Homo sapiens: one gene and its partners. The protein of the gene in region 4 purifies or fractionates together with the protein of the main gene of each other region. This does not show direct contact. Each region holds a gene or a part of one and is shown on either strand. Other genes may lie near its edges.

What was found.
Region 1: the proteins of LGALS3 (region 4) and SLC12A7 purify together in Homo sapiens (affinity purification with mass spectrometry; 5 studies listed by BioGRID and IntAct, with this or other methods). This does not show direct contact.
Region 2: the proteins of LGALS3 (region 4) and SLC15A4 purify together in Homo sapiens (affinity purification with mass spectrometry; 5 studies listed by BioGRID and IntAct, with this or other methods). This does not show direct contact.
Region 3: the proteins of LGALS3 (region 4) and SLC30A1 purify together in Homo sapiens (affinity purification with mass spectrometry; 4 studies listed by BioGRID and IntAct, with this or other methods). This does not show direct contact.

What each region holds. Positions count from the first base shown.
Region 1 is NC_000005.10:1,109,052-1,116,443, reverse strand, and holds the start of SLC12A7 (solute carrier family 12 member 7), read left to right. Parts: upstream 1-4,380; 5' UTR 4,381-4,452; coding exon 4,453-4,576; intron 4,577-5,842; exon of another isoform or gene 5,843-5,924; intron 5,925-7,392. UniProt on the Homo sapiens protein: Mediates electroneutral potassium-chloride cotransport when activated by cell swelling. May mediate K(+) uptake into Deiters' cells in the cochlea and contribute to K(+) recycling in the inner ear.
Region 2 is NC_000012.12:128,806,938-128,813,958, reverse strand, and holds part of SLC15A4 (solute carrier family 15 member 4), read left to right. Parts: intron 1-3,847; coding exon 3,848-4,016; intron 4,017-4,485; coding exon 4,486-4,563; intron 4,564-5,002; coding exon 5,003-5,171; intron 5,172-7,021. UniProt on the Homo sapiens protein: Proton-coupled amino-acid transporter that mediates the transmembrane transport of L-histidine and some di- and tripeptides from inside the lysosome to the cytosol, and plays a key role in innate immune response.
Region 3 is NC_000001.11:211,576,161-211,583,965, reverse strand, and holds the start of SLC30A1 (proton-coupled zinc antiporter SLC30A1), read left to right. Parts: upstream 1-4,804; 5' UTR 4,805-5,353; coding exon 5,354-5,975; intron 5,976-7,676; coding exon 7,677-7,805. UniProt on the Homo sapiens protein: Zinc ion:proton antiporter that could function at the plasma membrane mediating zinc efflux from cells against its electrochemical gradient protecting them from intracellular zinc accumulation and toxicity.
Region 4 is NC_000014.9:55,132,237-55,139,257, forward strand, and holds part of LGALS3 (galectin-3), read left to right. Parts: intron 1-1,115; exon of another isoform or gene 1,116-1,118; coding exon of another isoform or gene 1,119-1,156; intron 1,157-4,746; exon of another isoform or gene 4,747-5,133; coding exon of another isoform or gene 5,134-5,137; coding exon 5,138-5,155; exon of another isoform or gene 5,156-5,808; coding exon 5,809-6,132; intron 6,133-7,021. UniProt on the Homo sapiens protein: Galactose-specific lectin which binds IgE. May mediate with the alpha-3, beta-1 integrin the stimulation by CSPG4 of endothelial cells migration.

The DNA of each region.
Region 1 (7,392 bases), on a different chromosome or scaffold from region 4:
CCAGATTCAGCTCCATGGGATGTACCCCTGCCCAGCAGGCACAGGACCCGGGGGAGGCTCAGAACCCCACGTACCTGGCCACTGTGCAGACAGGCTCCCCAGCGCCAGGCCAGGCCCACCATCCACCAGGCCCAGAGGCCCCGCCCTGGGCAAGCCAGGGATCGGGGCGGGGGGCAGCTTGCGGTGCCTGCCTGGGAAGAGCCTGGCATTGTTTGCAGAACCCTTGGGACAGGGCTGCTTCTTCAGGGGAGATGCAGCCATGGGCCTGGGGCTGTGGCTGGGGTCTTCTGTCATCCCTGCCTACCACAGCTCCCTTCGAGCCCCCACAGGTGGTGGCGGATGTGGGGCTTTAGGGCCACCCTGGCCATGGGCAGAATTCTCGGCCCTGGTGGGACTCCTGGGCAGGGAGAGTGTGGGTCCCACAGGTGGCCGGAGACTCTGCTTCCTCCACTGATGTCCACATACCCCACCCTGCCAGGAGAGGCTCACCACGCTTAAAAAAAAAAAGGTTTGTTTTTTAAAAATCACTTTAGCCTTGGGTAACTGGGGCCTCCCTTCCCTCTCCTCCCTTCCCACCTCTTTCCTTTCCCTCCCCCTTCCCCCGATTCTCCTTCCTCCCCTCTCTCTTCTGCTCTGCCCTATTCGCTCTCTCCCCCACTCACCATGGGTGCTGGGCCAACAGGCAAGAACCTGGGTGGGTGCCCGGCCCTGCCAGGCAGAAGGCGGGTGGCTTTCTGGTGAGAAGGAGTGTGGGGCCTCCAGGGCCGGCCTCCTCCAGGTGTCCCCTTCCCTGGACACGGAGCTCTCCACGGACACTCTGCCTGCCAGCCCCACCTGCATCCTTCAGCCCTGGAGGTGCGCCCTGCCTGATACCCGACAGCAGGTTCCCAGCCCAGAAGGATGCAGATGGCGCACCAGGAGATGAGCCCCCCACCCTAACAGGAAAGCAGAAGTGGACTGGGGGGACCCGCGGACCTGGGGAGAAGCTCCGTGGGCAGAGGCACACAGATACCTGGAGGCAGCCTGCGTCTGGTGAGAGCCCTCCCAGGCCACAGCCCTGATTCCAAGCCGTGGGCACGAGCGGCCTCCTGGCTTGGAAGCTGGCATTGGGTGTCCGTCCTAATCCATTAGAAACTCCACCCCAGGGTGGCAGGCAGCAGGGACTGTTTCGAGAATCTACACACAGAATGTAACCACCATCGGCTACACTTTCGCACTAAATCCCAGGGTTCCCCTGGCTGTGCCCTGCACACGGCCAAGAGGCCATCGCAGATGACCAGGCTCACATCATAAGGATGCGAGATTGCATTTGAAGAGGCCCCCTGGGCAAAGCTGGACACCGATGCTTGGAAAGGGCACTAATGGTGATCGACTGAGACCCACCAATGTGTTTCATCAGCGATGTACAAATATACTTGGGAGATTGTCGGGAACCAATTCACCGTTGTGGAAACTGACAAATGAGGGAGAGGCACCCTTGCCCTGCCTTTCCTGTGGGCACCATTATCCAGATGGCCAGACGGACAAGATGAGCCTCTCCCTCCAGTGAATTCATGACGAAGCCACCACGCACTGGAAAATCACCATTTTGCTCCATGAATCTGTCGATTCAGACATCAAGCACCAACGACTGCGGACGGAGGAGCTACCACCAGACAGTGCGTGGCTCCCTCTGCGAGCCCCCGGCCTTGCCAGGGGACTGGACCCGGATCCCAGCAGTCCCCTGGCTCCAGGTGCCCACTTCCAGGAGACGCAGAGGCCTGCACCGAAAGATGCAGCTCCAACCCAGGCCTCGGGTACCTCCACGTGTCCGAGGGCCACTTCCTACAACAGGTGCCGGGTACAGAAAAGGACAGAGGGATGGAGGTGGGTAGGAAGAGAGCACTGAAAGTCACACAACGCACATTTAACCCCAGGCTGCCGTGTGGGAGGATATACGTGGACACGGAAACCCACAGAGCGAAGGGAGGGGCCACCAGACCCCTAGGGATGGGCTACTGATGGGATGGGAGGGGCCTGCAGCGGCTTCTGGGCTCCGGCAAGGGTCTCTGTCTTGACCCGCAGGTGCTTACAGGGTGCTGATCCCTGTCGTGACTCACCTGATTAGAATGCAAAAGGCAGCAGACCTCACCCCCCACCCGAGGTCTCCCACAAGTAAGATCTAAGATTTAAACAAGAGAAGCCACCTGCCTTCTGCCTGGCAGGGCTGGGCACCCACCCAGGTGCTTCAGCCATGGCCCCTGGTCCTAGTCAAGATTTTGTAATCACAGAGAAGACCACCCTCGGAGCTGCCACAGGACCCTAAACTCCTGGGCCTCAGTTTCCTCCTCTGTAAAATGAAGCTGATGAGTCCTGAGTCCGGGAGCTGGCCCTGGCCACAGACCCTCCAAACCAGCTCCTCTGAAGGTCCACAGCCAGCACATGGCGGGCAGCCGGCCCTGGGGTCCTGGGGTGTGAAGCAGAGCTTGGATGTGCGACGGGAGCCCTGCACATCTGTTGCTCCTGCTGGCATCACTTGGGAAGGCCTCGTGCCCACCCTGAGCTCTGTCCAACCCTCGGGAATAGCGCTGGGTGGCAACCAGGGTTGAATGTACAGAAGCCCCTGCTGGGGTGACTGAGGAGAGGGTTTACCCAGCACCCTAAGTGTGAACCCTATAATTGACCCCATTGGGCACTTCTGTTCCCACCCCCTGGATCTTTTTAGCAAAGCCAGCCCTCCTCATAAGGATGCCTGGGAACTATTTTATCTTCTGGGGAGGTGATGGTTTCCTACCTTCCAACCCACTGACCCAGGGAGGCAGCTGACCTAGCACCATCCACAGCCCTGAGCTCCCTTTGGTGGGAGGTGGGGTGAGAGTGTGGAGCAGGCACAGCTCCAGACACCCAGGCCAGAGGAACCCCCACCTCTGCAAGGGCTGGTGCTGGATGGGCGACGTTCCAGGAGGGTCCCAGGCCTACAGCTTCTGCCCAGAAGAGTCCATGGGGCAAAGGGGTAGAACCCTAGGCCACCCCAGGGCATGACTGGCTTTACTGGAAATGGCTGGAGAGGTTGGGCTTGCGTTCCTTGAACCCACAGAGCCCGGTGATCCCACAGCCCGGAGGCCATCACTCCCCTCCAGCTGCCTTTTAGGATTAGACAGGCAAGCGGCTAAAACATGGCCAGGCCATACCCATTTTCCACGTGACAAGAGGCTGTGGCCGTGTTTGCCCACACCACCTGTGTTTCTGCTTTGTTGTCGTACAGCAGTTGTGGGTGATTAGGAATAAAGGCTGACTCATTGCACCTGTGTGCCATAGCATTTTAGCCCAATTCCCCATTGACGGACATCTGATTGTTCCGTTTTTCATGAGTCATTTGTTGAGAAATGTGCCAGGTGCTGGCCGGTGGTATCCTGGTGTCTGCCTGGTGGGTTCTGGAACTCCACCTTCCCTGCATCACCCTGTGAGCTTCTGGAACATTTCCCAAGGAGGGAAGGGAGGGTTCTAGGGCAGGGGCCGCGGGGCACTCCTGGGGCAGGTGTGGAGGAGACTGGGGTCTTCGTGGGTGGTATTTGTCATGGGTGGGGGGGGGGACTCCCTCTACTGGGTTAGGTCCCTAAACTGGAGCTGGACCAAGCTCCGGAGTACCCCACCCCCAGGCTATCCAAGGCTCCTTCCACTGGAGTTGCCTTTGCAGCCAGGTTGGGCTAGCCAGGAGCCAGGCTAGGAGCCCAGGGTCTGAGCGGGTGTTGACAGCCTGGAGTGGGTGGGCGGACTGTGTGGGAGGTGGGTGCTGGAGGATGGCAGGGGGGAACAGGAGGGGGAAGAAGGAGGGGTAGGGGGCTGGAGCAGGAAATGGGGGGCAAACAGGAGGGGGTGCGGGAGGGGGCGCAGAAGGAGGAGGGGCCCAGCAGGAGGGGGTGCAGAAAGGGCAGGGGTTCCAGCAGGAGGGGGTTCATAGGGGCAGGGGGGCCCAGCAGGAGGGGGTGCAGGAAGGGTGGGGGGGTGCAGGAGGGGTGAGGGGTTCCAGCAGAAGGGCGTGCAGGAGGGGCAGGGGGCTGGAGCAGGAGTGGGGGGTCGGGGAAGGGGACAAGAGGGGAGGCGGGGAGGGGGCCGGGGAGGGCGGGGAGGGCGGGGAGTTCCAGCAGGAGGGGCAGGGGGCTGGAGCAGGAGGGGGTGCAGGAGACTGAGCGGGGATTCGCGGGCTCTGCGATGGTCGGGAGCGCAGGCAGCGAAAGCCCCGCGTCCCGGGTCGCGGCGGTCAGACAGACGCAGCCTGGGTTGGGGTCCCTGCAGGAAGTCGCCGCGGGCCAACTTTTCGTGGGGCCGCGGGGCAAGCAGGTGAAGTCACGTGGCCCGGGCGGGGCGGGGCGGCTCGGTCGGACCCCGCCCCTGCCTCCAAGTCCCGTGGCGTCGGCGGGAGCGGCGCAGCGCGGGCCGGGCCGGGACGGGGACTGTCGGCTGCAGGCGGCCATGCCCACCAACTTCACCGTGGTGCCCGTGGAGGCTCACGCCGACGGCGGCGGGGACGAGACTGCCGAGCGGACGGAGGCTCCGGGCACCCCCGAGGGCCCCGAGCCCGAGCGCCCCAGCCCGGGTGAGCGCGGCCGCACCTGGCCGGACAAAGGCCGAGCGCCCCGAGCGCGGGTCTGGGCCCGGCATCCGGGAGCGGAGGCGGGCGGCGGGGCCGGGGGTACAGGAGGCGCCCCTTCCCGCGCCCCCACCGCCTGTTCTCGGTCCCCCACGAGGGCCCCCACCCCACGTTAGTGGCAGCGCTAGGGGGCGAGGGGCCCTGCCAGGGCTCCCGGTACGGTCAGCTCGGGTGGGACCGGGGGCAGAGGTGTGGACGCCGCTGCTGGTAGCCATGGAAACGGGGAGGGGCTGGAGCGCGCCTCCGGAGGGAGCCCGGGCCCCTGGGTGGTCCCTAGTGGGACAGGGGTGGCGGTGGAGACCCGGGCGGTTCGGGAGCCGGGGCGTCCTGCGTCCCCCGCGCTCTCCCTTCCCCTGCGCCGCGGCCGTCCGGTAACACTAGCCCGGGCCGGCCCGTCCTGCCCCCGCCTGACCCTGGAGGAGCCGCCCACCCCCCAGAGGCGGAACAGGAAGGACTGCGCCCTGGCTGGGGAGGGGGCAGCCACCGGGGCCTTGCTCAGGCCGCGTCCTCCGTGTTCCCGTCCCCCGTTCCGGGAATCTGGAGGTTTCTAGCACTTTCACTTTCTCTAGGGGGTGGGGACGGGGCTGGGGAGAGAATCCCCCAGCCCTGTTCCCTCCATCCTGGCTCCAAATCCCAGTTACTCCCCGGATCTCAGCCCCCTCTAGAAACCGGAGGCTCTTAGGCCCTTCCATCCGGAGTCTCTGAGAAGGTGTCCGGACTCAGTCCAGCCCCCACCCCGCGTGCTGGCAGTGCCCGCATGTGCCCGGGTCTCATGCAGTGGGTGGCAGCCTCCCTGCTCCCTGGCAGTGGAAGGAAGGTGAGGTCTGTCCAGGGACAAGTCCGGTGCCAGACCCCAGATCCTTCCTAACCCACCATCCCGGGCAGGAAAGGCCAGACATCCCCTCCAGGCAGTTTAGGAACCCGGAGACACGGGTGGGGACCCACCGTGAAGGCAGTGGCCTGGTGGCCTGGGGTGCGTCATCAGGGTCCCCGTGGCGGGCGAAGAGTGGTCTCAGCTTCCTCTGCACAGAGGCCAGCCCAGATCTTGGAAGTGGTCAGGCGGGGCGCCAGGCTCAACACCAGGTGAAGTGCTAACTAAGCAGGGTCCGTGAGTCCAAGCCCCTTCTCTCCAGTCACCACCGTGGAGGCAGGAAGCACCAAGGAGTGTGGGCCCTGGCGTGGTCTTTCTGTGTGAGCTTTGTAGCAACGCCCCCGGAACGCACTCAGAAGGAGCCTCTTCTTGTCTGGCCGGCCCCTTCTCAAGGCTGATCAGGTTCACTTTTGTCTTTAGACTGTAAGTGTCATTTGCTTTTAAGCCAGAGAGAATTTTGTGCTTGTTCGTTTTCTTGTCTCTTCTACTCTCAAGGCTGTTGAGCAGTGCCCTGGGCCTGTGTCTGCCCAGCAGGAAGTGGCCCTGGCTGAGCGCTGCCCATGTCGCTGCCCGCGCACTCAGGTCCTGCTACGGGCGTGTCAGGAGGCTCCCTGGCCTTCATGAAATTGAGAACGGGAGGGCATGGGCCAGGTGTGGGCTTCTGGACACTTTTGAGGGTGGCCCTGTGGTGTGAGCTGAACTTGGGAGATTTCTCCGAACTGGCAGAGAACTTGCACCTGGCGCTTTTGTGCTGGACCCGCTTCCTACTTCCACAGAAAGGGCCCGGTGCCCAGCCACTGCCAGGCTGTAACGGGCACGCAGCTGCCCTTCGGAATCCACTTGATCACATCCTGATCTTCAGCCCACAGAGGTGCGGCGAGGAGTCCCGTGATGGGCACGGAGCCTGGGGAAGGAGGCACAGGCTTTGCTTTTTGGTGGTGGTTGGGGGCGGGGGTCCTGCAGAAGCCGGAGCCCCTCCCAAAGGCCTTCTGTGTGGGGTCCACACCACAAGGTCACAGGCCAGGTCCAAAACTGTCCGGCCACAGAGTTACCAGCACCCAAGCTCTTCCTGACTCCATTGCCGTTCCCCTGAACGGTCTGTGGAGGTACTGGAGCTTCTGGGCTGGCGCCTGGGTGACGGCGAAGCAAGTTTGGGGGGCCTGGTGGGCTGATCCTAGGCACTGCCAGGTGGGCGTGGAGAGGGCGTCCTGAGCCACCCCAACTTGAGGAGCAGGGGCCTTGGTGTCCCCAGCCTGGGTTGGGGGGTTCTGGGGAAAGAGGGGTAGATGCTGCTGCCCGGGCTGCCTGGCTCGACCCAGAGCCCAGCAAGGCCGCGTCTGCCCAGCCTGGCTCCAGGGGCCTTCTGTCCCCGACCCCTGCAGCTTCCCTGCTGCTTCTGGTGGAGCCTCTGCGGGAGGCGTCCTGTCCCGGGGATGGGCACTGTGCCCTCAGCACTTCTTGGGACGGAGCTTTTATTCTTATGTGAAATACCTCGTCTTGAAATGAGAAGGACGTGTTAACCCTCAGTTTCTCAGTGGGGTGGTTTTTTGAGAGTAGGAGGTGGGAGGACACTGCTGGGGGCCGGCTGCGTCTCGTCCGACTTCAGGGTAGAGTGGGTTTTGTAACTGACTTGGGGGAGCCCACCCTTCCTCCGTGACCACATCAGGGTAGACTCACTCCTTCCCAGGTTGTAGGGGTGCGTCCAGAGGCCTCGGAGACCCTGGGAGGGGTGGGAAAGGAGGGCTGGCCAGTGCCCCGGCCTGTCTGGAAGGTGCAGCGTGCAGAGCCTCTGTCAAGGTCCCACAGGCCCTGGCCACCCACTGTCTAGGAGGGACTTCCACTCGTCTGGGGCTCCCTGGGCTGGGAGAGGGTGGGTCCTGCCTTGTACCCC
Region 2 (7,021 bases), on a different chromosome or scaffold from region 4:
AAGAGAGCTCAGAAGTGTTTGTGTTACTCTTTATTGAGGAATAATTTACAGATAGTAAAATTTACCCCTTATATCTGTACAGTTTTGTGAATTATGACAAACTTACTCAGGTTGTGTAACCACCAGTGCAGTCAAGGCATAGATTATTTCCATCCTTCCAGAGAAGTCTCTGGGACCTTTTGTAGTCAGTCCCCTCATGGAATGTTTTGATCAACGTAGAAATGCCTGGAGGCTGCTGGGTGGGAGGCTGATCACTCAGCCATCAGAGCGTCCTGTGTCTCTGAGCCGTGCACCCCATTGTGGCATGGCACTGGTTGCTGGACATTCTTCTGCGGGCCCACTCACACATCTGCCTGCCTGCGGCCTGTCTGTGTTTGTCTTACTCATGCTCTTGGAGCCGTAGCGAATGTGTCTAATATTCCTTCCACGTGGTAGATTGAAACTTCACCAAAATAGCCCTGTGCGCCTACTTTGCTCCTGAACATCTCTGATTTCTCCGGCTGTCCCTGTGTGGAGTTCTGGCAGATCTCACCAGTCTACATGACCTATTGGAAATGCCAGTGGGTCATTGTGGCATTCAGACACATAATTCAAAACTGCAAATGGTGGGACCGCACTAAAGAATTTTTAGTAATTAAAGTACAGGAGGCTGAGGTGGGAGGATCACTTCAGCCCAGGAGGTCAGGTCAAGGCTTCAGTGAGCCATGGTTGCACCACTACACTGTAGCCTGGGTGACAAAGTGAGACCCTGTCTCAAAAAAAAAAAAAAAAAATATAGCCCCATCTTAGCTGACACTAGTCTTTTGCCAGGGCCTTATTTGATCAGACAAAAGCAGTGTTTCGGATCCTAGAGGTCTTTTTCAGGAACAACCCTTAAAGTTTTAGTATCCGTGTGGGTGGTAGCCCATAGACATTTCTGCAAGAGAACAGCATTGTTCTGTGGACATATTTGGGTTTTAAAGCACAAATGGCAGTGTGGAGAGGGTTTGGAGTTACTTTTACTTAGGAAGCCGATTTCCTCTTAGGATAGTCTTTGAAAGTCTTCTTGGGCAAAAATAAGGGAAAAAAAAGCAGGGGCTAGCTTGCAGAAAAGTTGATGGTCTGAGGAATTCTCAGATTCTGCTGTTTGTATGAACTGGCTCTGTAACCTTGGGCAGGTTACTGATCTTGCGAAGCCCAGCTTTCCTTTTTTTACAGCGGAGATGGATTCATCTCATGGGCTCACGGTGGGGCCTGAGCACAGTGATGTGTGCAAGGCCCTCAGCAGGATGCCAGGTACATGATAAGGGCCCTGTCAGTGGTGACCACTGTGACGAGGGTGCCTTAAAAAAGGTGGGCCTCCAGGCTGGGCGTGGTGGCTCAAGCCCGTAATCCCAGCACTTTGGGAGGCCGAGGCGGGCGGATCACGAGGTCAGGAGATCGAGACCATCCTGGCGAATACGTGAAACCCCGTCTACTAAAAATACAAAAAATTAGCCGGGCGTGGTGGCGGGTGCCTGTAGTGCCAGTTACATGGGGGGCTGAGGCAGGAGAATGGCGTGAACCCGGGAGGCGGAGCTTGCAGTGAGCCGCGATCACACCACTGCACTCCAGCCTGGAAGGTAGCGAGACTCCGTCTCAAAAACGAAAAAATAAAATAAAAAAAAAAAGTTGGGCCTCCAAAGCCTGAGGAAGCATGACATACCCAACATTTTTACAGTTGTGACACTTAATTTCATCTGGCCCAATCTCAGTTTCAATCCAGGTTGATCTGTGTTTTGAAGATAATATAGTGCTTGATATTAAATGAGAAATGAAGGCGTATTTGTTCAACTCATCAGACCAGAGTAGAAATGGTTCTACAGCTTTTTGAGATACATACTTCTTTGGGAATCCGTGAGAACCAGTGGACTCTTTTCCTGGAGAATACACACACCTACATGCGGCCTTCACAGAGACTCAGGCACAGGCGTCCTGAAACTGGAGCTCGTCAACTTGTGTGGGAGGAGCAGAGGGCTCTTGTGGGTGTTCGGGTGTCACTTGTGACCGTGGCTTCGTGTTGGACCCTTGTATGTTGCAAAATAGTGCACCTAACAATATGTGTAACCCAGTAAAGCTTCAGATGCATGTTGATTTCACAGCTTTTAAATATTTTAATTACATAAAGCGAAAGTAATATAACCAGTAACCTGTGTGAATGATTCTTTGTGTGAAAATGGGTTTATTTGTTATTTAAATGTTTTTAGTGAAAGGTATTTAATATGATGTGGTAAACCACTGATAGTATCTGCATTAGGTACAAAAGGACTTTAATTTCCTTTTTGAAAAAAAGTAGTACTTGAAGAAGTTAATGTTTTCGAGTGAAAGTATTTATAATGTCTTTGGAATTTATTTTCACTTTTGGGTGTTTTTGTTTTTGATTATTTTCCCCCACTAGACTAAGTCCGTAAGGACAGGAGCCCTCCCCTTTAGCCCCCAGGTAGAGCAATGCAGGGCCTACAGCAGGTACTCGATCAGTATTTGTTGAATCGAACTTAGTTTTCTTGTCCAAAATTTGGCTAAAATATTCAGTTATAGTTTTCAGCGCTTCTATTTTTCCCCACTCTGAATGTCCAGACTTAAAATGTTGACTTTATAAGATAAAGAATTTAAAATACTGGCACCATAGTAAAATGGGACATGAGTTAATAAACTAGAAGGCTGACAGGTGCCATTTCTGTTGGCTTCCCACAGTTAAACACAATCTTATTGGGAATTAACTCTCTCCTGGTACTTCTGGCTTTAGAGAATAGTGTGCACTTTGTTTTCCCATTTTACCCCTGAGATCCTTGGAGCCCGTTCCCCATTAGAGTGTTTTGGAGCTGGGAGAGAGTGCGGAGCTGTCTAGTGGGGCCTGTTCATTTTCTAAATAATGAAGCAGGCCCAGAGCAAGGAAGTGAAACTCGTTAGTACAAGAGCTGGGGATGCCAGGTCCATGTTCCTGCTGTGACCGGCAGATGTGAGGGCAGTGGCAGGGAGTGGAGGGACAGTGGTGTCCTGCAGGGGTCAGGGCCTCAGGCTGTAAAGCCAAGACTGCCTGGGTCCAAGTCCTGGCCATACCTCAGGCACCCTTCACACTCTCTGTGCCCCGGCATCTTCCTCTGTGCAATAGGGCCCTGAAGAGTTTTAACACCACATGGTTAATGAGGGAGCACATGGGACGCGGTGCACTGGGCACTCCCTGTTTCCTACTGTCAGGGGACAGAGCCAGGGACATCCTCCTCTCATCACCACCAGCACCGCCCTCCCCCAACAGCTCTTCCTTAATCCAAGAGCTGACAGCTTTCCTCCGAGAATAGAAGCCTGCCTCAGTCCTGCCAGTGACTCAGTTTAAACCAGCAGGGTTTTATTAACAGCATGGGTATTGGCTGTCAGGTCTTGATGTTTGATAAATTAGCTGATTAAAAATTCACACAATCCAGTGCATTTTTTCATATGCTATCCAGTGGCATAGCTAGTGTCCCTCCCAGTGTCACGTAGAGCTGCAGACTCTCCCCACACGGAGATTGCCGAGCTGGCAGCTGCGCTGGGGCTCTCAGCTCAGCCGTGGTTCACACTGTCATCACAGATCTTCCAGCCACGCCAAAATTACAGTAGCCCAGTTTCACTTTGACTAGAAAGTCCCTTTGTCAGCTGTTTCAGTACATTCTGTGACATTTAGAAATAATTTAGGTAGCTGTGTTGGGTGTGTACAATTAGTAAGTGATGGAATGAGTTGAAGCAGATTCAATACAGTGAGCTGGTTTCTTACCTCCAAACTTAATTTGTGACCAAATAATTGATTGCTGGGAGGGGAAGAAAACTAATTCCTTCATTTTATTTCCCAAAGTGAAGGCATTGGAGTCTTTCAGCAATCTTCTAAACAAAGTCTGTTTGATTCATGTAAGATGTCTCATGGTGGGCCATTTACAGAAGAGAAAGTGGAAGATGTGAAAGCTCTGGTCAAGATTGTCCCTGTTTTCTTGGCTTTGATACCTTACTGGACAGTGTATTTCCAAGTGAGTGGTGACAAACAGGTTTAATTTCCTTTATCTTCCTATGAAGTCTTACCCTAGCACTTGTTTTGGCCATTTCTAAAGTAGGTAGGACTAGGTGATTTTTTTTCCCATGAGTCTACAGAATCTTGGAATTTTTGGTTTTAGTTATGGAGTCATTTTGGCTGCTTTAACTATGTCTAAAGCCTCTCTGAAAAAGAAGCTGAGAACAGGTACGCTTCTGGTTTTTCAGGCCCCTCTTGTTAATGTAATTTCTCCTTTGGATAACTGGCCATTCTTTTTCAAAATTGATCTCCAGAGGACTTTACGATGACCAAATCATTGACCTGTCTGTTTTCAAACTTGAGCCATTGTCTATTTCTGGGAGTCACTGTGTGTCGCATCTGAGTCTAGCTTAGGGGAGGGGCAGGATGCTTAGAGTGTTTGAGAGCACAGTTGGTCCACATATAATGATACTGTTTTTTATACCTAGATGCAGACAACATATGTTTTACAGAGTCTTCATTTGAGGATTCCAGAAATTTCAAATATTACAACCACTCCTCACACGGTAAGAACAATTGTAATGATCTGAACATTGTTATTTTGGACTTATGTAATAAATGGATTCCTTCTACCAACTGTAAATCTTTTATAAATGTTAACAGCACCGACACAAAAGCATTGTTATTGAAATAGAGTTTTTACTTATTTTAGAGAATATTTTTTCATTGGTTGTATCATTTGCTAGATTAGGTTGACTAACATCAATTCAACATTACTTAGTATTTTTCACCTGATTATTTTCCCCTCAAAACACAGAAAAGCAAATGCAGATTCATTTGGAAAGAAATCTTTTCCCAGTTCCGTTGTCTCTAAACTGAAGAGGTTGTACCTTGTGGAGAGGAACTGTTCTTTACGTGCATTTCTCCCATTGAGACGTTGGTTCTCTAGACAGGTGATGGCCTGTATTGCGGGGAGTAAACGCCTCCTCCTGTGTTTCACCCCAGCTCCCTGCAGCCTGGCTGACCATGTTTGATGCTGTGCTCATCCTCCTGCTCATCCCTCTGAAGGACAAACTGGTCGATCCCATTTTGAGAAGACATGGCCTGCTCCCATCCTCCCTGAAGAGGATCGCCGTGGGCATGTTCTTTGTCATGTGCTCGGCCTTTGCTGCAGGTAAGAGGCATTCTGCTCCGTTCCTCCTCAGGCCCGACTGCAGCAGTTGTGGATTCAGAATATAGTGCTCACACGCAGTCGTGCCCCAGGTTGTTCAGGAAGTGCATGTCTGTAAAAGAGGATGTGTATCAGTTATTTTACAGCACTAATCCTTTATTTTAAAGTTTAAGATTATTTTCCTAAGGATACGTCATTTTTCTGCTGGTACTAAAACCATTGGGTTGCTCTGAAAAGTGACATTTGGACTGAGTTAAAGGGAGGTTTTTCTCTACCTACTGATTTAGAATTAGGCTATTGAATGCTGAATAGATGAATTTTTGTAAATTAAAGGTACTGTATCATCCTCAAGGATGAGAATTCCACCTTCAGATTACTAACCTTAGGTTTATTAACAAGTGTCAGGGTGCCTGCGAGTCCTTTGAATTTTTTATGTAAAATTCTGTGTGCATTTTTCTGGTGACAAAAATGTTTCTAGATTGTTACAGGCTCCTGGGCAGCATCTCCTCCCGCTACAGATAAACCTGATAAGAACAAATGCCTAAGTCTCTAAACTCTGATGAGGAGAGTTATCCTTTTGAGGATTTCCATTCTGTTTTCATAATTTTTATGTGCTGAAATGAGTTGTTTATCTTTTGCTGATAAAGCTGGGTATTGCTGACTTTCTGAATTATTTTGGAGTTCTCCCTTCATTAATATTTGAAAATTATTGACTGATGAAACAGCTTAGTTACATAATAATAAAAGTTGATATTCTTGAACCAACTATGTATTATCTGCTGTCATGAGGAATTCAGTGTTAAGCATTGCTGAAATGGAATTTAATATTCTCAAACAATGCTGCCTTCATAGCAGCTTTCATCTACTTTTGCCAGACTGAATGTATTGATATAGTACTTAATAGATTTAAAGAAATTAGTCCCTGGGCTTAAGAAATCTCTGTTCTAGAGACTGGGACATTTTAGAAGACTATTGCATTTTCTTTTGTTCAAATAGATAATTAAAGTGAGGTCGTGTCTGAATGAAGTTTTTGCTGTGCCTTCTTTATAATTCAGCTTCTCTTCCAGAGCTGTGGCACATGGGGAAATAAGCATGGGCAGAGAAGAACTGAATCACCGCAGGGCTCTAGCTGCAGGCTGCGGTTCAGCAGAGTGCGCCTGCAGAAGGGCTGTCTGCAGGAAGTCTTTGCACTGGAGGCTGTGTCTGCCTGCCTGTCCTACCTCCCCAAAGCGCAGGCTCAGCTTTGGCCTCAGACCTCTCTCTCCCCCCGGGGCTGGAGTGCCTTCTCTGTGCCCCGTCACCACACTGGTTGATGCCAAGGAAGGGAGTCCTCGTTCCCTCCCTGTGGGAAAGGAGACGTCCTTGGTTTCCGGAGGCTTTTCCAGTAGATACTTGGTTTGGGCTCCTTTCCTAACATCCTCTCTTTCAGTTTCATAAATGGCTGAATCACTTCTGTGGGCTGCCTTGAGAGCCATGCAGTCCATTCTGGTGGTTTCGATATGTGTTTGTGCAGGATACAAGTGCCAGACCAGTCACTGTTGAGATTTCCCCATTGCACTCCGTCAGTTCTGTCTTTAAAAAGCGCTAGCAGGCCGGGCACGGTGGCTCACACCTGTCATCCCAGTACTTTGGGAGGCCAAGGCAGGTGGATCACAAGGTCAGGAGTTTGAGACCAGCCTGGCCAATGTGGTGAAACCCTGTCTTTACTAAAAATACAAAAATTAGCTGGCCATGGTGGCGGGCGCCTGTAGTCCCAGCTACTCGGGAGGTTGAGGCAGGAGAGTCGCTTGAACCGGGAGGTGGAGGTTGCAGTGAGCCGAGATCGCGCCACTGCACTCCAGCCTGGTGACAGA
Region 3 (7,805 bases), on a different chromosome or scaffold from region 4:
TGTGTGCACAGGCCTTCTGGCAGGAGGGAGTGTGTAGATTCATGGTGGTCAGAAAGGCCAGTCCCCTCTTTATCTGGTGGAGCGACATCATGAGGCTGGGGACAGCAGCCAGAGGCAGATCAGATCTGGTCCGGCCGTGTGCACCCAAGTTTGGTTCTCCTTCTCCTAGCACTGGGAGGCCACTGCAAGATCTCAGCCGTGATGGCGTGGGGGTGGTGGAGGATGTGTATTTTGCAAGGACTAGATCTGGATTTCAAAAAGATCACTCTGGCAGTAAAATGGAGTACAACTCAGGAACAGGAGGGCAGAGTGGCTGTTTGGAGAAAGGCAAGATAATTTTACAGTCTAGAAGAGAGCCTGGAAATGCTCCCTTCCACAGAAGTTCCAGCTCCTGCAGCCTAGTTCCGTCCTCATGCAACCTTCCTTCCGTGAGGTTCTGCCTACCAAGAGGGAAGGAGGAAGGACCTGTGCAATGAGCTTTAACCCGAGACAGAGAAAGTGAACAAACTGGAAGTCCAGCTGGCAAATGAGTCCTTTTTGTGTCCATATGAATGAGTTCGCCTAGGTGAAATAATTCAAAAGTGGTTTCTGAATTTGCAAGTTGAGAACTCAGCTCTGGATTCTTGGTGACCCCAAGTACAGGAGGCCTGAAAGGCCCTGTCTGAGAATATGCACTAGGCAGCTCCATCTCCTGTACTCACCTTTTAACTCCAGTTAAGAAGCTATCATGTACACCCCATCACTGAGAAGATGTGGAAAGTGAGGCCCAGAGAGGTTTAGTAACTTCTCCAACATCACACAGTAACTTTTAAGGGCCAGTCCCTGAACTGTCATCCTAAAACTCATTAGGTGTGTGATCCTTTCAAAATGCTCTACTGGCCGGCATGTTTAGGGATGAGTAATGGAGAGAGTCATAAAAACATACTTTTAAATTAAATTCTTTTTTTCAAATTTTCTGTACATTGTGCTTTAATTACCATCTCCAGCCCCAAGAGTAGAAGGGCTAAAGAAAGAATGGGCATTCAGTCTAAAGTCTTAACACTGACTACCTGAGCCTTCAACAATTTCTGGTATTAACATTATATAGCACTGCACCCAAGAAATTCACAGATGCTTTTAATGAGTGTTTCTGTATAGATAGCAGTGCCTTTATTTCTAGATTGAATTTCCAGGCATAACTGGAGAACTTAGACCCAGTTTCCAGCCTCCAAGAAAAATAAGTTCCTTTTGCTGCTAGCCCTCATCTGCTATTCTTTTTTTTTTTTTTTTTTTTTTGAGATGGAGTTTTGCTCTTGTCGCCCAGGCTGGAGTGCAATGGTGCTATCTCAGCTCACTGCAACCTCTGCCTCCCTGGTTCAAGCGATTCTCCTGCCTCAGCCTCCCGAGTAGCTGGTTTTACAGGCATGCACCACCATGCCTGGCTAATTTTTGTATTTTTAGTAGAAATGGGGTTTCACCATGTTGGCCAGGCTGGTCTTGAACTCCTGACCTCAGGTGATCCACAAGTCTAGGCCTCCCAAAGTGCTGGGATTACAGGTGTGAGCCACTGTGCCCGGCCTATTCTTTAAATTAACAAATATAAAAATTCAGTGACTGTTCCCAGCCTCTTACTGTACAGTTTCACTCTCTGCACTGTTCCTGTTTCCCCTTTGCTGCTACGTGGGTTTCCTGCTCTGACCATTTCTTTCATATGGTTTCCCTCACACCTCTGAGACTTTAGTGCTATTTCTGGGCTTTATTGCTGCATTGTCAGTTGTTTATTCTTTGTTCCACTGCCTGTTCCTTTGAGAGCAGCTGAGAAATCAAACCTTGGCCTTCATGTTGTTGGTAGAGATTTCACTTCATATTTGTAATAATTATTCATTTATGTTTTGAGAGATTTCCCCATCAGTTTTAAGATTGAACATTAGAAGTGATTTACTGTCAGCCAAAGTCAAATATAATGTGGTTTTCACAGGGTTTTGTTATTTTATCTTTCCAAGCAAGGTACAGCTTTATACACTCATGATTTTTGATTACCAAAATTCAGAAGTACGTTTGTGTTTAGCAGTTTTTACGAGAATCTTACAAGATCATTTTAAACTTTCATTAAAAGCAAGGAGAGGTCCAGAGGGCTTTGAGATTGCAGTTTGTCTGAAGCCCTTGACTTTCATTCAAATTGGCAGTCTCTTTTCCAAAAAGAGCATTATTCTCTCATCTTTAAAGTATGCTGGGTTTAGTCAGTTTGGATACTAAGCAAGTTATCAGGAGATTTCTCAAACATTAAGAAGAGAAAGCCAAGCCGTCTTACTCAACCCAGGGCCACAGCCTCCAGGGGTGTTGGTGAATAACAGTATAGTGTCCCTTCATTTTAATCTATTCCTGCCTGTGTTGACACTCTACTAGGACAACCAGATGAAAAGGGAAAAAGCTCGAGTTGAGGTACCAAAGTCTTTTGCCTACACAATGTTAGAGGGAAACAAAGTCTGACTGAAGTGTTCTGCTGTGTGGTAAATATTACTCTCTCCAGAGAACATGATTATAACTTCTCTAGAACCTGGAAAATGTACTCCCTGCCCCCTCTGCCCCGCCCCCAACCACCCACCAGGAGGGAATAAAGCACATTGTCTGGGAAATGGCTGAAATGCAGGCACAAAGTAGGTTTTCAGAAGCGGCTATGAGTTGAACCTGTTTTTATATGGGTCTAAAAATCTCCCAATTTAGTCTGTTTAGTTATTGAAGGATTGCTATTGTGTTTGCAAGCATCACTGACTTTTACATCTTCTTATTGGTTCTTCTTTGGGTATCAAATCTTCGCATTTGGAGGAATGTATTTTTTAAATAAAGCGAGGCACAGCAGCCCTTAGTAGAAAGCAAAATGGTCTTCAAACTGCCTCTAGGCCATTTCCATGAGGATATCTTGACCCATAAGTGGCTTCCGAATTTCTGTATATGAGGGGCTAGTTGATAGGATGTTTGAAGCTGTGTTTACAGATGATCAGAAAACTGTCACTCATCCATATCAAAGGAGAGGAAGTTATGGAAGTCCTAAACCCATTAATCCACCCTTTAGCACTGCCCAAACCCAGACTTCACTTCAAATTAAGCACATTAAAAATGGAGTTCATATTTTCTCCTAAAAATCAGCTTCTTGGCCTCCCTTCCCAACTTCCTCACCTGTTTAAGGCAGTATTTTCCTTGTCAGGTTAGAAACATTATAACTATCTTTGTTCTCCTACCTAGCTTCCTCCTTCCCAATACCCAATTAATCATCAAATTCTATCATTTTTTCCTTAATAATGTCTTGAAAATTTTCCTCCATTCTTTATATTCCAGCAAAACAGAAACAGAAGGTGAGGATCCAGCTCTCCAGTCTGGATGGGGAGACTAGAAACACACTACATACAAGTGAAAAAAATTTCATAGGAATTACAAGAATACCAAAACAATGCAAAATAACAGCTCCAAACAAGCCTTGTATACACATCTCCAGGCAATAGCTGGCACTGCATTTGTCCAGTAGTAATCTAGGGCAGTGGGTGGGGAGGTCCTTCTGCTGCGCAGGGGCTGTGGTGAGGCCTTTCAGGTCCAGCTTAAGCCACTCTGATTCCAGCCACCACCCCACCTTAGATGGGCAAGCTGTTCCTTTCCAGATCAACTCATCTCCACCCACAACACAGTGCTTATGTATTCAGTCTAAAATAGCACAATTTATCAAGAGTATTCCATCGTAATTTTAAAATGTCGTGTTTATATTTTACCTCCACCTGGACAGAAACTCGTTCCTTTGTATTCTTACTGCCCCTCCACCTCCCCATAGCAACCAGCACAAGATTCCACCGTGTGTAGTCTATAAATAAATGTTAAATCATAGAGCCTTAGAATTTTGGAGTCAGACGGGGATCTTCAGAGTTGCATTTGTCCAGTCCTTTATAGATGGGGAAACAGGTCTAGAGAGATTAGGTGACTTGCTCAAAGCCACACAGCTGGCTATTGACAAGGCAAGGAGCAGAGCCCAGGTTTCTCCTGCCTGAAGTCTGTACCCTGAACTGTCCTTAGATAATCAGTGACAGACACCTGAGTTCACACAAGGTCTCCAGGGGTTGATGGTGATAGGAGAAACTGGCTTTCCCAAAACATGTACAAAGATTCGGTCCACGCCCCTAGCAGACCTTCGGGAGGACTAACTCCTCAGCTCGGCGTCCAGCAGAGTCCCAAGTTACAGTCGCACTTGTTTATGCGTCTGTCGGCCTCCTCCGACAGGACCGAGTACTCGAGGGCCCCGCGCTCAGGGGCTCCCCTCCGGCCCCTCCCCCGCCGCCGAGCTGTCACACAGCCGCCGCGCGGCCCGCCCCCACGTGGACTGGGCTCGGAGGATCAAAGTCTGTTTGCAGACTTTGCAGCCCGGCCCCCGCAGGTGTGCTGGGAGTTGCGATGGTCCGCAGGCCAGGACTCCGCCACACCCGAGGGGACCCGGCCAGCCCCTCCCCCTCCCGCTGCACGCGGCCCGCGCCCCCAATTCGCCCGCCGCTGCACCCGGCCACGGCCCCCCGGCCCACGCCCGGCTCCGGGAGGAAAAGGCCCCGCCCCTATCTGTTGGAGCCGCGACCCCGCCCCCTTCCCGCCCCTCCGAGGCTCCATCCAATAGTGAGCGTGGCTGGGCGGGACGCCGAGGCTGTCGTGAGGGGGTCCTGACCAATGGGGAAGCGTGCCGGGCCTGGTGGGCGGGGCGGCAAGGCCTTGTCACGCTCGGGTCCGTGTGAAAACGGGGGTTCCGAGTGCAAAGCAAAGTTTTTTTGTAAACCGTCTGCAAAGGCGGGGGGGCGAAGAAGGCGCCCGAGACCGGGCCGAGTGCAGCTGCCGTGGCCGCCGCCTCTCTAGCTCCTCAGCCATCCGCTCCTCAGTCCAGCCGCCGCAGAGGAGACCAGCAAGCAGAGCCCTCAGATGCTCGGAGCTTTCTCGGCGCGAAGCTGCCCGTCGCCCTCTCCTGCCGCCCTCGCCCGCCGCCCTCCTGCTCCTGCTCCGGCTGCGGCTCTTGGTACCCCGGCTCCGGGAGCCCAGCTCCCCGCCACCGCCGCCGCCTGGGTGTGGGGGCTGCTGAGGCTGAGCCGGGCCTCGGCGCCGGCTCTGAGGACGGACGCCTGAGGAGCTGCGCGGCGCGGCGCCGCCGGCTGGCGGAGAACGCCCACAGGCGCGGGGCTCGGCGGCTTGACCCGGGCTTGTCCCCGTGCGGCCGCGGGGGCCCCTCAGCGGTTTCCCGAACGGCCCGACTCGGGCGCTCCTCCGTGTCGCGGTCGCCGACCCTCCGCGTCCCGCCAACGCCGCCGCTGCACCAGTCTCCGGGCCGGGCTCGGCGGGCCCCGCAGCCGCAGCCATGGGGTGTTGGGGTCGGAACCGGGGCCGGCTGCTGTGCATGCTGGCGCTGACCTTCATGTTCATGGTGCTGGAGGTGGTGGTGAGCCGGGTGACCTCGTCGCTGGCGATGCTCTCCGACTCCTTCCACATGCTGTCGGACGTGCTGGCGCTGGTGGTGGCGCTGGTGGCCGAGCGCTTCGCCCGGCGGACCCACGCCACCCAGAAGAACACGTTCGGCTGGATCCGAGCCGAGGTAATGGGGGCTCTGGTGAACGCCATCTTCCTGACTGGCCTCTGTTTCGCCATCCTGCTGGAGGCCATCGAGCGCTTCATCGAGCCGCACGAGATGCAGCAGCCGCTGGTGGTCCTTGGGGTCGGCGTGGCCGGGCTGCTGGTCAACGTGCTGGGGCTCTGCCTCTTCCACCATCACAGCGGCTTCAGCCAGGACTCCGGCCACGGCCACTCGCACGGGGGTCACGGCCACGGCCACGGCCTCCCCAAGGGGCCTCGCGTTAAGAGCACCCGCCCCGGGAGCAGCGACATCAACGTGGCCCCGGGCGAGCAGGGTCCCGACCAGGAGGAGACCAACACCCTGGTGGCCAATACCAGCAACTCCAACGGGCTGAAATTGGACCCCGCAGGTGAGCCGGGAAAGTCGCTGCCGCAGGTGGTTGGGTTTGGGGTGCCCAGAGCCTCGCCTGGCCTTCGGCGGGGTGGCCCGCACGCCCCCTGCTGCCCGAGCGGGCCTGCGCCGCGCCGCCCCTGCCTGCTCCCTCCCCGTCCTGCACACGCCCCGCTGCTGCTCCAGGAAATCAGAACCCCCTCAGTCGGGTGCAAGGAGCCGGCGACGCGTCTGGCATATTTGTAGGTGGGGGCTGTGGGTCAGACCCTAAGAAAAAGGGTCAGGAGGTGATCATCATCCCGCTGCAGTCCACACCCGCACTTGGCTGTCTTTACAGGCTGCAGCAACTTTGCTGGAGACTTGTCTGGTTATGGTTATAACAGCGTCAGAAATGCTTCCCAATTCAATTCCTTGGCCCTCTTGGGAAACGGAGAGAATCCCCAATTCGTCCCCAGTAGTTGGGTGCTGGAAACCTTGCTCTGCCAAAGTAGTTCTTATGCCCATTGAACTCCGTTTCATAATATGCATTCAGAGCGTGTAAACCCTGGTTAAAGGTTTCTTTTATGAACAGCAGTGTATGCTTCAGCTAATTGATCCCTAATCCTGGAAATCATAGATTTAGGACCTGTCTGGGCATGTTTAACATTTTCCCAGGACTTTTCATAATCGTACTGAACTAAAAGTGATGGTAATTTATTCATCTTATATTTTTAGTGGATGCTTTTTATATTTAACATTAAGTGCTCTTGAAGGAAATTTGAAAATAAATGTTGAAAGAAAGGAGATGGAAATGACTCAACCAGTGTCCTACTACCCAAGCTCAATGGTGCTTAACAATTTGGTCTTATTTCCTTCACTTACGTTTATTTACCTTGTATCATTATAAATTATGCTACATAATTTTCCTTTTCGAGTGCAGAATATGAAGTTAGTGAAATTCAAGTTGTACATTGGAAAGGTTTAATAAGTAATTGGTTTTCCTCTCACTCCACTCGGCAAGGTGTTATTCCAAAGAAAATTAAGTTTCTCTGGTGTGTAATTTCAAAAGATCAATACTTTTTATCTTTTTGAATACTTTTGATCAATACTTTTTGAAAAGATCAATACTTTTGATTTAAAAGTTAGTAGGGCAGGTAGTCATTTAGTTTCAATTTTTCTAATAATCTCTGTGATTATTGATTTTTATTGTTGATTTGTCAGTTTTTAAACCCCCCTACCAAGAAACTTTTATATTCATAATAAAAGTTTAAAAGTTAAAATTGGTTTTATTCTCAAGCAATTGGCCTCAGTGACAAAGAGTGACTAGAGAGTGCCCGAGTGTCAAATCAGGTATTTTGTATTAGTAGACTTATTCCTAGCTGCATTTAATTTTGGTGTTAGCATTCAATTTTATGTTTTCCTTTGTATATACCATAAAGTATAGCAGAATGGTTGCAGGACTCCACCCCCATAGAAAATATACACTATTTTGGAGAGGAGGAGGCAGGAGAGTGGTTAGGAGGGTGAAGAAGCAGTATCACAATGACTTAATTTAGCCCTGGCTATTATGTCCTGGCTCATTCCCAGAATGTCAATTTATATTAAATTGCTCTGAGCACATTTTTTTAATTGTACTTTCTGAAAAAATTTTCACCTTCATCACCACTTAAAAAGAATTAGACAAGGATGTTTATATAAACACTTTAAATGTATTTGATATAAAATTTTTATTTCTTTGTAGACCCAGAAAACCCCAGAAGTGGTGATACAGTGGAAGTACAAGTGAATGGAAATCTTGTCAGAGAACCTGACCATATGGAACTGGAAGAAGATAGGGCTGGACAACTTAACATGCGTGGAGTTTTTCTGC
Region 4 (7,021 bases):
TACTGTAGGTGTTTACAAATGTGGAGACCCAGCTAGTATTTCTCTACTTTTAGTTTATTTTTTGAAGTTTTTTTTTTTTCCCCTCTGACTGTTCAAAATTCTCTGATCCTGGAAACACCAGGGTGGGGTTCACATATCTATAGTGTCTGTAGAGTGGGAAGATTTGTGACATTTGATTGTATGTCTCTCTCTGTAAACTACTCATCTGAAAAGAAAAAAGAAAAAAATTTCAGGCAAGTAAGGATGATACTTATCTGAATAGATGTCTTTTTTGTTTTCCTGAAAGTTTTGAGGTTAATAATCTTGATTTCAAAAGAGCATCAGTTATAATGCTTTTCTTTTCTTTTTCTTGAGATGGAGCCTCGCAGTCTCCCAGGCTGGAGTGCAGTGGTGCCATCTTGGCTCACTGCAACCTCTGCCTCCCGGGTTCAAGCGATTCTCCTGCCTCAGCCTCCTGAGTAGCTGGGATTACAGGCGCCCACCACCACACCTGGCTAATTCTTTGTATTTTTAGTAGAGATGGGGTTTCACTGTGTTGGCCAGGCTGGTCTCAAAACCCTAACCTCATGATCCTCCTGCCTTCGCCTCCCAAAGTGCTGGGATTACAGGCATGAGCCACTGCACTCGGCCTATAATGCTTTTCAAAAAAGAAATCTCATGGTTGGAAGTTGACGGGGCATACCCAATTTTTGGAAAAGTACACTTTATTGGTTAAAATGTCATTATAATTAGCAAATGACTATACAAAATGGCATTCTTGTATTCAATATTCAATATTATTTTGTGCTTGAATGAATCACCCAGTTAGTTTTCTGACCAAAACACAATCCTTTTTAAAAAATTTGTTTACAATTTCAGTATGTTATGTAGTTACAGATGAGTAAGTCAGAGAATTAATTTCACAATGAAGTAATTAACACTTTCAAAGGACTGTACTTTAAAATTTCAAAGTGTGATGTTTTCTATTGGTGTAGAATGAGCCTAAATAAGGAGTAAAAAGACACGAGCCCTACTCCTTGATCTGCCAATGACAGATGACTTTGGGCCACCATGTTATCTCTCTGAGCCTCAGTTTCCTTATGGTGAGAACACAGTAGTCTCCCCCTTATTTTCAGGGGATGCATTCCAAGACCCCCTGTGGATGCTTCAAACCATGGTTAGTATCAAACCCTATATATACTGTTTTTTTGATCTGATAACCAAGCCTGCTACTAAGTGACTTGTGGGTGGGTAGCATCTACAGTGTAGATAGGCTGGACATAGGGATGATTCATGTCCCAGGCTGGACAGTGAGATGGCAGGACAGTACAAGATTTCACCACAAAGAATGTCATTATAACTAAAATAGATAAGGTATGTGAACATGCTTCATAAGCTGAAAAGCGCCACACAAATGCCAGGTTTTGTTCTAGTGGCCTTGTCTAATGTGTCGAGACACAATCTATACTGCCCTCCGAGGTGGTGTTGAAACAGTGGAAATGCAACGAGATCTGCTTTGTTTCCCAAACTGGATTTGGTTAGATTGGAAAATAAACTAAACATGCTTGAGCAGAGGCTTTGAAAAGAATAAATATTAAATTATGGAAATGCCTTCTTTATTTGACTTTCTGGTTGGAATCAGCCTTTAAACACATCTTAATTTGAATAGAGTTATGTTAGGACCCTTTATAAGGCAAATTCAGCTAGTTTTAACAATTGAAACTACCTTTTTGGTTTTTATTGAACCACGTGTGTACATTCATGTAGGGATACACTGCTAACTAGCTAGATTGGCGGTCCTCAACTAGCCATGATTTTGCTCCCAGGGGATATTGGCAATGTCTGAAGACATTTTGTTTTCCTTTTTTTGGTAGAGACTGGGGTTTTGCTGTATTGCCCAGGCTGGTCTTGAACTCCTGGGCTCAAGCAATATTCCCGCCTCAGCCTCCCAAATGACTGGGATTACAGGTGTGAGCCACCACACCTGGCCTGAAGACACTTGGTTGTCACAAGTTGGAGTGTGGTATGCTGGAGTTCTGGCAGCATATGTATTGAAGCCAGCAATGCTGCTGAACATCCTGCAGTGCACAGGACAGCGCCCCACAGCAAAGCATCTGACCTGAAGTGTCAGTGGTGCTGAGGTTCACAATAAGCTCCTGTGCAATGAGGACATTTAAAAGAAATCAAAATGTTGATAACGTTATTGCTGGGTCTTTGATATGTTGCCTTAGGGTGGAAGAAGTATGTGTAATTAAAGGAACTAAGCTTTCTGCCCACCTTGAAGTTCAAGATTGTTTCGTATGGCATCCAAAATGAGGGAGACTTTCTTTTTCTGAATTAAAAATTTTCATTTATTTTCCTTTTCTGTAACAACTCTTCTCTCAAGGTCCCCCTGCAGTAGCAACTTATACGGTTTCTTATACGGTAGTGTGGCAGCCTTTTGGGGAAGGAGGCACATGCAGAGGAGCTCACAACTTTTGCTTTAAAAAGCCAAGCACTACAGGATGTAACGTAAATGAAAGATGCAGTAACCTCTGGAGTCACCGTGACTTCCCTGTCAAGCTGCCAGCAGTTCCCTAGGTTGGAAAATGGGCATGGTCATAACCTAACCACTTCTGAATAGGTTTCAGAATGACCATGTTCAAAAAGAGATGTGTGGCTGGATGCGGTGGCTCATGCCTGTAATCCCAGCACTTTGGGATGCTGAGGTGGGAGGATCACTTGAACCCAGGAGTTTGAGACCAGCCTGGGCAACATAGTGAGACCCCGTGTCTAAAAAAAAAAATAACTTAGCTGGGTGTGGTGTTGTGTGGCTGTAGTCCCAGTTCCTTGGGAGGCTGAGGTGGGAGGATCACATGAGCCTGGGAGGTGGAGGCTGCAGTGAGCCCTGATATCATGTCACTGCACTCCAGCCTGTGCAACAGAACAAGACCCTGTCTAAAAAAAAAAAAGATGTGCAAAAATATTTTAGTCAAAGGTAATGTCTGACTATGATATAAATAATAGCAGTATAGTAAAGGATGAGCATCCCCAATGCAGAAATCTGAAATGCTTCAAAATCCCAAACGTTTTGCATGCCTGCATGATGTTCAGAGGCCATGCTCTACAGAAATGCTCACTGGAGATTTTGGATTTTGGCTCTTCAGATTAGGGATGCTTAACTGGGCATAAGGACATATTCCAAAATAAAAAAAAATGTAAATCAGAAACACTTCTGGTCCTATTTCAAATAAGGGATACTCAACCTGTATAAAATATCCAGTGTGTATAAATGAAGCATATGTTAAGCCCTAGGAGGAGCTCTGCCTGTTTGAGTTTTACCAAAAATAAGGTAATATTTTATGGTTTTTTTTTTTTTTTTTTTTTTTTGAGATGAGGTCGCTCTGTCACCCAGGCTGGAGTGCAGTGGTGCCATCACAGCTCACTGCAGCCTTGACCTCCTAGGCTCAAATGATCCTCCCACCTCAGCCCCTCGAGTAGCTGGGAACACAGGCATGCGCCACCACACCCGGCTAATTTTTGTATTTTTCATAGAGACAGGGTTTTGCCATATTGCCCAGGCTAGTCTTGAACTCTTGGGCTCAAGCGATTTGCCCACCTTGGCCTCCCAGTGTGCTGGGATTACAGGCATGAGCCACCACACCCAGCCAATATCTTGCATTTGAATCAAGTAGTGGACATTTATTGGATCCCTTGGGGCCGATGCCATTTCTAAAAGTGATTGAGTAAATATCACAGGTGGGCAAATCAAAGAGAAGGATATTCTGGTTGTTTCAAGGTCCAGGTAATTCAGGCCATGGCACAGGTGATCCTGAGCTTAGGAAGAACTCACCCATGCCTCAGGGGCCCAGCTGCCCTCCTCCCCTCACTGCTGGAGCACCTACAACAGCTGTGAAGCATCTTGTGCTTTTGGAGCCTTGACATGGGAAGGAACAGGAGAAAGCAGGACTGATGTCTCCAGACCACCCCTTAGGCAAACCCTCTTTGGTAGCATCTTAGACCCAAATATTTTTTTCCTTCACGTCACGTTGCCTGAATTTTTTCACCTTAGTTTGTTGTACTGCCAAATATTTTATTTGGAATAACAAGTACCTTTGAAAAAAAAAAAGCACATACAAACTTCAGCTCCCCTTTGAGGCTTAGCTCCAACAGCACCTTTCCTTTCCTTCTTAGAAGTAAGCTTTCTGGGTTTGAATTCCTACAGCACACATTCTGACTCATAGCATCTGTGACTTGTTATTTCACATTTCCATGGATGCATCTCATCTGCCTTGCTGCACTGTAGGCCCTTCGGCTTTTATTTTTTTTTAATTCTTAATCTTTATGGGTACATAGCAGGTATATATATTTATGGCATACGTTAGATGTTTTGACACAGGTATGCAATGCCTAATAATCACATCATGGAAAATGGGGTATCCCTCTTCTCATTTATTTGTGTTACAAACAATCCAGTTATACTTTTAGTTATTTTCAAACGTACAATGAAATTATTGACTATAGTCACCCTGCTGTGCTGTCAAATACCCGGCCTTATTCATTCATTATAACTATTTTTGTCACCCATTAACTATCCCCACCTCCCTCCCACCCTCCCTCACTACCTTTCCCAGCCTCTGGTAACCATCCTTCTATTCTATATCTCTGTGGGCTCAATTGTTTTGAGTTTTAGATCCTGTGGCCCCTTTGACCATGCAGATCATGGCCTATTCATCTTCACACCTAGATAGGAGCCTGCGCAGTGCCTGGCCAGGAGCAGGCATAAGTGTGTGCAAATAGAGGAATAAATAGCAGGGCAGCAACTATGTCTGGAGGTCATTGTCTTTCCTGTCTCAGTAGTAATCAATCACTGCTTATCTTCAAAAACCCAGAGTAGGGGATGGGGCAGTTAGTGGGGACAGAGGGCAGATGGGTAAGATTCAGAGCACAGGCTAGTGTGACGGAAGTTTAAACTTGTGAGTTAAATAGGGTTTGGCAATCTAGCTGGATAGCATCCCTGCCCCTTGAAGAGATGTTTTTGTGGCGCCACACTACTGACTTAGGCATAATGCCTAGAGATGGATTAGAACTGCACAATGAACTAGTGGTGAGGTTCAGTTTAATGGAAATTGGTGAAAGCTTTTAGGATAAAATGATAATCTTTGTTTCTTTCAGGAAAATGGCAGACAATTTTTCGGTAAGTGTTTTATGCCTGTTTCTTCCCCTTGATCAGCTCCACATGGTTGAGGGTTGGGGGTTTTGTTTTTACCATGACTTTCCCTTTTCACTCTCCCACTGCGTGGCTTCCCCTGGACTCATTTGTCCAATGAGGGCTTGCAAGCTGGAGCCTTGTTTTTCCAGCAGCAGATTTGGGAAGAAAGCCAGGCAGAGCGAGGCCTGGGACTCACTCACAGTAACCCTTTCACCAAAAGGCCCAGGGCGGAAGGGAGTGGACTCTGCCGGCAGGAGCTGAGAAATCCTCTGAGTAGCGGGAAGTGCGGTACAGTCTGGGCATTCTGATGTTTGTGATTGTTTTTCTCACGGTGATGAAAAAGTATGTGCTATAAGTAGAGGAGCGCTAACTCCTGACTTGAGCTAATTATGAAAATGCAGCCCTCCCTGATCTGAGACGTTGGGAGGCAAGAATAAAGTGAAAAAGTATATGTAATCCCAACATCTAATTTTAGTCTTAGAAACTCAAACTATTAATAAGTGGAAAAAGTTTAATGATATGCATGTAATGCCTTTGCCATATTCCTCTCCTTCTTAGATCACATATTCCTATTTTCCTGAAAATTCTGCTTTTGAGAATGCTTTCTGTCCCGTAATTGTGTATGTCTTTCTTTCCAGCTCCATGATGCGTTATCTGGGTCTGGAAACCCAAACCCTCAAGGATGGCCTGGCGCATGGGGGAACCAGCCTGCTGGGGCAGGGGGCTACCCAGGGGCTTCCTATCCTGGGGCCTACCCCGGGCAGGCACCCCCAGGGGCTTATCCTGGACAGGCACCTCCAGGCGCCTACCCTGGAGCACCTGGAGCTTATCCCGGAGCACCTGCACCTGGAGTCTACCCAGGGCCACCCAGCGGCCCTGGGGCCTACCCATCTTCTGGACAGCCAAGTGCCACCGGAGCCTACCCTGCCACTGGCCCCTATGGCGCCCCTGCTGGGCCACTGGTGAGATGGCATTCCTTCTTTCATGTACTTGACATGCAGAGGGCTTCAGGGAGACCCTGAGCTTTAAAGCTGCTGCTTAGAGCCACTTCTCAAGGGCCAGCCATGGGTGTATGTTGGTAGAGTCAAAAAATTAAGTGTTCATATTGAGCTTATTGTGTGTGGTTAGTATAAACAGAAGGTAATGAGTATTTTGAAGGCACTGATAAAACTGCTTATGAATATAAATCAAGATTGTAGTAATGGAGAACATTTTGGTTATTATTAACACTTACGGAGTACATGTCAATAGTATGCATCTACATGGATAATCTCATTTAACCCCATTACCACGCTATAAGATACTGTTAATAACCCCATTTCACACATGGGGAAATGGGGCAATAGAGAAGTGATATAATTTGTCCAGGGTCATTGAGCAAACATGTAGAGGAACCAGGGTAATCTGGTTTTGAAAAACCTTCTAAAGATAATTTTGTGATCTAAGGGTTGAATTTTCACGCAAATTAAAATATGTCATAGCAAGTGAATTCTAAGTGTAAAACATAACTCCATGGGGGATCCAGATACATCTCAGCCACAGGATCCTTCCTTTCCAGATTTATAATCTAGTTGGATGATAAAACATATAATAAATATGAGGAAAGAGCTAAGTACCAGTATGGGATTAGACCATTTCAGGACTATGCAGAAGACAGCACAAGGTAGCATTGTCTCCTTTTAGGTCAGTTTAGAGTAGAAAGACTTGGGGGAGTGGGTGGCATTGAGAGGGCCTATACCAGAGATGGTTAGTCAGTTGCAGAGAGAGGGAGACATGAAGGCTGTGGAAAGGAACAGGCAGATGTAAGAGAGATTACAGAGGAAGAACCCCCAGAATCTACTGATTATGTCT